Linked DNA regions of Homo sapiens. The protein of the gene in region 2 interacts with the protein of the main gene of each other region in a biochemical or structural test. Each region holds a gene or a part of one and is shown on either strand. Other genes may lie near its edges. The genes, in order: CREB1 and CREB3L3.

The links.
Region 1: the proteins of CREB3L3 (region 2) and CREB1 interact in a test that uses a peptide from one of them, tested with the Homo sapiens proteins (one large-scale study listed by IntAct).

The regions. Positions count from the first base shown.
Region 1 is NC_000002.12:207,574,724-207,578,544, forward strand, and holds part of CREB1 (cyclic AMP-responsive element-binding protein 1), read left to right. Parts: intron 1-548; coding exon 549-731; intron 732-1,907; coding exon of another isoform or gene 1,908-1,924; exon of another isoform or gene 1,925-1,930; coding exon of another isoform or gene 1,931-1,970; exon of another isoform or gene 1,971-2,202; intron 2,203-2,386; exon of another isoform or gene 2,387-2,501; intron 2,502-2,781; coding exon 2,782-2,932; intron 2,933-3,821.
Region 2 is NC_000019.10:4,156,345-4,160,165, reverse strand, and holds part of CREB3L3 (cyclic AMP-responsive element-binding protein 3-like protein 3), read right to left. Parts: intron 3,172-3,821; coding exon 2,871-3,171; intron 503-2,870; coding exon 384-502; intron 1-383. UniProt on the Homo sapiens protein: Transcription factor that may act during endoplasmic reticulum stress by activating unfolded protein response target genes. Activated in response to cAMP stimulation. In vitro, binds to the cAMP response element (CRE) and box-B element.

The DNA.
Region 1 (3,821 bases), on a different chromosome or scaffold from region 2:
TTCATTGAGTGGATTAGATACCATTAAAGAATTTCTACAAGAGTTAGGGAATACAATGCACTGATGAACTGCTTTATTAGTTATATGTTAAAACAACCATTTATTGGGTGCCTATTTCATGGCTGCCACTGTGCTAAGTGTATGAAAGTATATAAGAAAATTCCTACTCTCCAGAAATTTATTTACTAGTGGGACAAGTATTAATACATTATGCAGTTAATGCTAAAATAAAAGAAAGGATCACAGAGTGGAACCTCTTCAGAACCAAATAACTTCAGAAGGAATTTAACATTTTTCCACTTAAAAAAATTGTTAACAGGCATTATTATTATAAATTAGAATGCAGTTCATAGAGTGCATTTCTATTGTAGAAGTTGAATATGGGTTTCCTGAGGAGCAAGTTACTTGAATATATTAGACCCTTCTTGGTGATGTTATTTGCTGTAACTTCTCCTAGATTATTTTACAAATTATTCTACATTGGATGTAATGTTTTAAAAGTCTTATATGGTATTAAACTTGTAACAATAAAATCCATTGGCTTTTAGTTGCCATTACCCAGGGAGGAGCAATACAGCTGGCTAACAATGGTACCGATGGGGTACAGGGCCTGCAAACATTAACCATGACCAATGCAGCAGCCACTCAGCCGGGTACTACCATTCTACAGTATGCACAGACCACTGATGGACAGCAGATCTTAGTGCCCAGCAACCAAGTTGTTGTTCAAGGTAAGGGAATTCAGAATTCACAGGTGTGGTAAATTCTTCAAAATACTAAAATTTTATAAACTCACAGAAAAAGTAAGTATCATATTGCAAACCACCATTCAAATGTAGTTAACATTTCTTCAATATTGATAGTATTTTTCATGAACTCTTCCATTATTCCAATTGGACCAAAATGTCATGGCATAAAAACAACTATTTTCAGTTTTTAAAATATTGCATCTACCTTTAACATCTTTTGGGGTAGAAGAAACAGGATAGGTTAGAAGGAAAGACCAGGAAATCAGGAGTTAGAAAAGATGGATTCTGTATCTAACTGCATGGATCTGCTATGAGGCCTTGAGTAAAAGTCAGCTGCTCTGAGCCTCAGGAAAGTGTTTTGTTTTTTGTTGTTGTTGTTTTTGTTTTTTCATCTGTAAAATAAGAGTTGCACTGAATCTCTGGAAACAATCTTCAGAAGTTCAGGATTCTGTTTCTCTGCTTCCCCCCCCCCCCCCAAAAGAAATTTAAATCTTCTGAGATCATCAGTTTTTATTATTATTATTATTATTTTTTTCTAGAGACATGGTCTCACTGTGTTGCCCAGGCTAGTCTTGAACTCCGGGCCTCAAGCAATCCTCCTTTCTCAGGCTCCCAAAGTGTTGGGATGCCTCTGCACTTGACTCAGTTTTTGTTTCAAATGAAAACATTATATTCCACAGGATCTTATACCAATATGCAAATCTGCTGCTCTTTAGAGAAAAAGTAGTTGTTAAATTCTCGACAAATTATAGAAGTTGCTTTTTTTGGCTTTTTTTTTTTTTTTTTTAGTTTTTTTTTTCTGTTTATTTCAGGAATCTTTATGGATAGCAGTTAACCATTTTTCTTTGGATTTGTTTGAATATTTCAAGAATATAGTTAATGCCAGGTTAGAAATTTGCTGATTGAGGAAATAATAATAAATTTGTTTCTGAAAATATTTTTATAAATAATAATGCATTTTGCCTGTGTTAGGTAATGACAGTTGTATCCTTTCACCATGGATAATTGAATAATCCTGAAACACCAACTGGAGAGAGTCATAACTTATTTAAAGAGCCCTAATGTTTACAGAATATATTCTGTTATTAAACGAGTATTTGAAAAAGATACTATTTTGCTTATTGATGAGAGTAAAACACCTTTTCACTTTACATGCAGGTACTCAAAAATTGTAAAGCAGGATGTCAGTGAATTTGAATTCTGAACGTCAGTTTGAAGATGGTAACATGTTTAGTATATAAATCTTTTCCACTCAAACCATACATTTTAATTGATATTAATAATTAATATGAATAATTTTATAAAGACCTTCAAATTTTTTTAAGTAACATTAGGTTCCTTATTAGGAGAGCATATTATTACGCTGTTTTTAGAAGCAGTTTGACAAATAGTGATTGTGTTTGTTTTTACAAATGGTGAATCAGTTAGAAAAATAAAACTTCAGTTTATTTAGCCATTATCATTTACATTAAAACAATATGTTTTTCAAATAATATAATTGGCATCAAGTGATACACTTTTTCATACTTTTAGTTTTGTTTTAATTCAAAATTTATAATAGTTGACCATAATGCTTTATCTTCTTTTTCATTTTGCTATTTTATGAAAAATCATGGTCGTTTTTATGTCGTGGCAAGAGTCTACTTGAAATTTTTTAATATGAATTTACCAATATCAAAGGAAGACACTGAGGACTATACTCTATCTAGGAAGATCATCCAAGCTGTGCCCCACTTACCTTTTAGACTTAAGGTTGGTAAGCATGTTAACAACAGAATAGAACTGCATTCAAATGAAAAATAAAATGTAAGATCCAGCGGACATAGGTTACTGTAATAAATACATTACATTGGGAATTATTTCTTAGTAGTGGCGCGAAGAGTGCTGATTCTTTCAACGCTTTAGCCAGAATCATCTTTTCTTTTTTGTTTCCCTTTTAGTCCAAAATACATGCTTAGATTGATGATTGATACACATAATTGAATCAAGTTGCAATGTTTCTGTCTTACACCATGCTCACTGTTTTTTTCAGCTGCCTCTGGAGACGTACAAACATACCAGATTCGCACAGCACCCACTAGCACTATTGCCCCTGGAGTTGTTATGGCATCCTCCCCAGCACTTCCTACACAGCCTGCTGAAGAAGCAGCACGAAAGAGAGAGGTCCGTCTAATGAAGAACAGGTACAAATACTGCATTTACTTAGATTGTTATGTGTTAAGTGTGTCTTCACATTCTGCTGGATGTGTATCTTTACATCTACTGGTAATAGGATCTTTGCATTGAATTTTTTTTTTCCAGCAGAATTAATGGATCTTGCTAAATTTTCTTTATTTAATAAGCTGCACTTATAAGATAGCTGTATGATTATGGGTCAATCTTTGATCGTGGAGTAGTTTTCTTTCATGCAGTTTCCCCACAGGAGATTTAATGCACAACTTCCCTATGTCTGCACTCCAACCAGTTAGCCAGGTTATTTAAAAATGGTTTCTTTTCATGTATAGTATTGTTCAAGAAGATCAAGAGTTTCATATATGTATATTAACTGTGTGTTAAATTTTATCTATATTAAATTTACTTGATATAAAGTAAATGTATGGTGGCCAGTTCATGTTTTAATGAATAATATCTTTACTCAAAATAATAACATTTTAACACCTAAAGATTCTTCAAAAATATGTTAATTCTAAGAATACCATGTTACGGACAAAAATCTTAAAATATAGTCTTCAAAAAAATACTACATTCAAAATCTGTGAAATGTTGGTAAAGCAATTCTCAGAAAGTAACTTTATTGCTGTAAATGATTTTGCCGTCAAAAACAATAAAAATAAGTTACTAAATATTGGTTTAGAACTTTCATATAGAAGTGACCGAGACAAACAAAAGAAAATGAAAATAAGGTTATGTAAAGGTTTAAAAAGTTTGAAATTAGTGAAAGTATCTCACTGTTCATCCCAGGATACTTCAAACACTGATAAAGTGAAAGAAGCAGGGCTTCCAAGTCCTAGCCCTATCCCTCCATTTTGGGAGAAGGTATTAACCTTCTGTACCTCAGTTTTGTAAAATGGG
Region 2 (3,821 bases):
TGCCACCATGCCAGGCTAATTTTTGTATTTTTTGTATAGATGGGGTTTCACCATGTTGCCCAGGCTGGTCTCAAACTCCTGAGCTCAAGCGATCTGCCTGCCTTGGCCTCCCAAAGTGCTGGGATTACAGGTGTGAACCACCACACTCAGCCAGTTTTAGCTTTTAGTTGTTGTTGCTATTGTTACTACTAAGTACTACAGAGGAAGACACCCCAGCCCAGGCGACAGTGAGCCCAGGACTGGAATGGTCTCTAACTGTGGGCAAATTCCACGCCTTTCTGTGACTCAGTTTTCCAGTCTCTGAAACGGGGATATTTAGGCTCCTCGAACCCGAGCAGCCCTCCCAGCTCCAACGCCCCATGGGAGGGTGTGGGGGTGCTCACCAGGTCCCCACTGCTGCCCGAAAGGAGGAGGTCTTTCACGGTGAGATTGCATCGTGGGGACAGGTCCACCGGATCAGCCGGCTTCTCAGCACAGATCCTTCCTCCTGGGCTCCACATTTCTGACCAGGGCAGGTGGGGACGGAGACAGGGAGAGTGTCAGACGGGGGGAGTCCTGAGCTTCCAGCCTCTAACCGCCTCCTCCACCAAGTCTCCCATGATTAATCCCAACATTCATATGACTTCTGCCAGAGTTTGGAGTCCCCAAGGCCTGAGTTGAAGGGGGCAGCCCTCACTAGTGACTCGGTCTCCCCTCTGCTATAAGATGGGAACCCAGCCAGTCATGGTGGCTCACGCCTGTATTCCCAGCACTTTGGGAGGCCAAGGCAGGCGGATCATCTGAGGTTAGGAGTTCAAGACCAGCCTGGCCAACATGGTGAAATCCCATCTCTATTAAAAATACAAAAATTAGCCGGGCCTGGTGGCGTGCACCTGTAATCCCAGCTGCTCGGGAGGCTGAGGCAGGAGAATCACTTGAACCCGGGTGGTGGACGTTACAGTGAGCTGAGAATGTGGCACTGCCCTCCAGCCTGGGTGACACAGCGAGACTCCATCTCAAAAAAAAAAAAAAGATGGGGACCCAAATTCAACAGGGCTTGGTTCTGTCCGTCCCACAAGGCTGAGGAAGACACAGGACATTGTCAGGAGACACCGGCTGATTCAAAAGGGAGTGGCTGTTATCACACAGAATTACAGGCTAGATTTGCAGCCAGCCAGGCGTTATCTCACCCAAGGGGCAGGGACGAGGTCTGATTCACCTCTGGTTGTCCCCTCCTGGTAGCCGGCATGCAGTAGGCATGCTGTCCCAGCACACAAACTTTGGGTCAGGTAACCCTTGGTTCTAATCCTGGTTGGGCAGGGCTGTGTGACCTTGAGTAAGTGACTTCACCTCTCTGAGCCTCAGATTTTTTTTTTTTTTTTTTTTTGAGACGGAGTCTCGCTCTGTCGCCAGGCTGGAGAGCAGTGTGGCAATCTTGGCTCACCGCAACCTCCACCTCCCAGGTTCAAGAGATTCTCCTGCCTTAGCCTCCCGAGTAGCTGAGACTACAGGCGCCTGCCACCACACCCAGCTAATTTTTGTATTTTTAGTAGAGACAGAGGTTTCACCATGTTGGCCAGGATGGTCTCGATCTCTTGACCTCGTGATCCGCTCGCTTCGGCCTCCCAAAGTGCTGGGATTACAGGCGTGAACCACTGTGCCCAGCATTTTTTGTTTTTGGCTTTTTTTCGAGACAGAGTCTGGCTCTGTCAGCCAGGATGGAGTGCAGTGGCATGATCTCAGCTCACTGCAACCTCCGCCTCCCGGGTTCAGGTGATTCTCCTGCCTCAGGCTCCTGAGTAGCTGGGACTACAGGTGGCCCCCACCATGCCCGGCTAATTTTGTATTTTTAGTAGAGATGGGGTTTCACCATGTTGGCCAGGCTGGTCTTGAAGTCCTAACCTCAAGTGATCCGCCTGCCTCAGCCTCCCAAAGTGCTGGGATTACAGGCATGAGTCACCGCTCCGGGCCTGAGCCTCAGTTTTGTCAACTCTCCAATGGGACCAAGAAGAGCTCATAGCAAGGGTCAAGGGACAAAGGCCACCCAGAGGCCAAGTATCTCCAGCCAGGGCTCTGCCTGGCCCGCCGGGAATGCTTAATCAATAGAGTAAATCATTACTGATCTGCTGTTCCCCACGTCTAGGAGGAGCACCCTGGAACCTAGGACCTGGTAACCTCATGCACTTTTATTGAGCATCTACAGGCTGGGTGGAGCGGCTCACACCTGTAATCTCAGCACTTTGGGAGGCTGAGGTGGGCAGATCACCTGAGCTCAGGAGTTCAAGACCAGCCTGGCCAACATGGTGAAACCTCGTCTCTACTAAAAAATAAATATTAGCTGGGCATGGTGGCATATGCTTGTGATCCCAGCTACTCAGGAGGCTGAGGCAGGTGAATTGCTTGAACCTGGAAGGCAGAGGTTGCAGTGAGCCGAGATCGCGCCACTTTACTCCAGCCTGGGTGACAGAGTGAAACTCTGTCTCAAAAAATAAAAATAAATAAAAAATAAAAAAAAATCTACTAGGAACCAGGCACGGGGTACAGACACGTAGAAGGCAAGACCCTGACTTTGGGCTGTGCTTGTCAGCACCATGCCTGGTGCCTGAGCCACCTGCCGGGGTTGCATCCTAGCTCTGTGGTTTTAGCTCATTGCTCAACCTGACAGGACTGTTTCACGATCTGGAAAATGGGCTCCCAATAGCATCCACGTGAAAGCATGGAAACACCTAGCCAAGGGAGACACGTGTCCTGAGTTTGAGTCTGGGCCCAGCTCCAAATTGCTGTGTGACCTTGGACAAGATGCCAGCCCTCTCTGGGCCTCCATTTCCTCACTTACAGGAAGGGCCCTGGAACAAGGTGAGGGCGGTGGGCAGAGACACAGCAGGACTCACCCAGGTCTATGGTCACAGAGGCTTCAGGTACTTGGATCACTGGCCCTGGGGTTGTGGTGGAGCAAGAGTTGCCAGGATGATAGGAGAGGCAGGGCCCCTTGCCAGGCTGGGCAGGATGGCAGCCGGCGGGGGAGGTGGCTGGTCCGCTGCGTGGAGGGGTGTCCTGGGGGTCGGAGGGGAGGTCTTCGGAGATGCCACTATCACTGCCTTCGGGGGACCAGAGTGGGGAGCTGGGCAGTGAGTCTCCAGAGCCCAGGATGGAGCTGAGGAAGTCGTCAGAGTCGGGGTTTGGCAGGACCTGCTGGGGTGGACAGGGAGGGGTAGTAGGAATTAGGAAGTGCTCACTCTTTTTAGATTAGTGTGTGGCCCCAGGGAAACCAGTGACCCTCTTTGGGCCTTAGGTGTCCTTCCCTTCTCCAAGATGAGTTACTGCTTCTTCCTCCCGGGGCTGCTGAGGCTCAAACGCAGTAACATAGCATAAAAATCCCAGCCAGTGCCAGGTGCAGTGGCTCCTGCCTGTAATCCCAGCACTTTGGGAGGCCGAGGAGGGCGAATCACTTGAGGTCAGGAGTTCGAGATCCGCCTGGCCAACATGATGAAACCCCATTTCTTCTAAAAATACAAAAAGTAGCTGGGCGTGGTGGCGGGCATCTGTAGTCCCAGCTACTCGGGAGTCTGAGGAAGGAGATTCTGAACCCGTAAGACGGAGGCTGCAGTGAGCCGAGATCACGCCACCGCACTCCACCCTAGGCAACAGAGCAAGACTCCATCTCAAAAAAAAAAAAAAAAGAAAAAAAGAAAAACAAAAGAGCCAGGCACGGTGGCTCAGGCCTGTAATCCCAGCACTTTGGGAGGCCAAGGCGGGCAGATCACCTGAGGTCGGGAGTTTGAGACCAGCCTGACCAACAGGGAGAAACCCCGTCTCTACTAAAAATTCAAAATTAGCCAGGC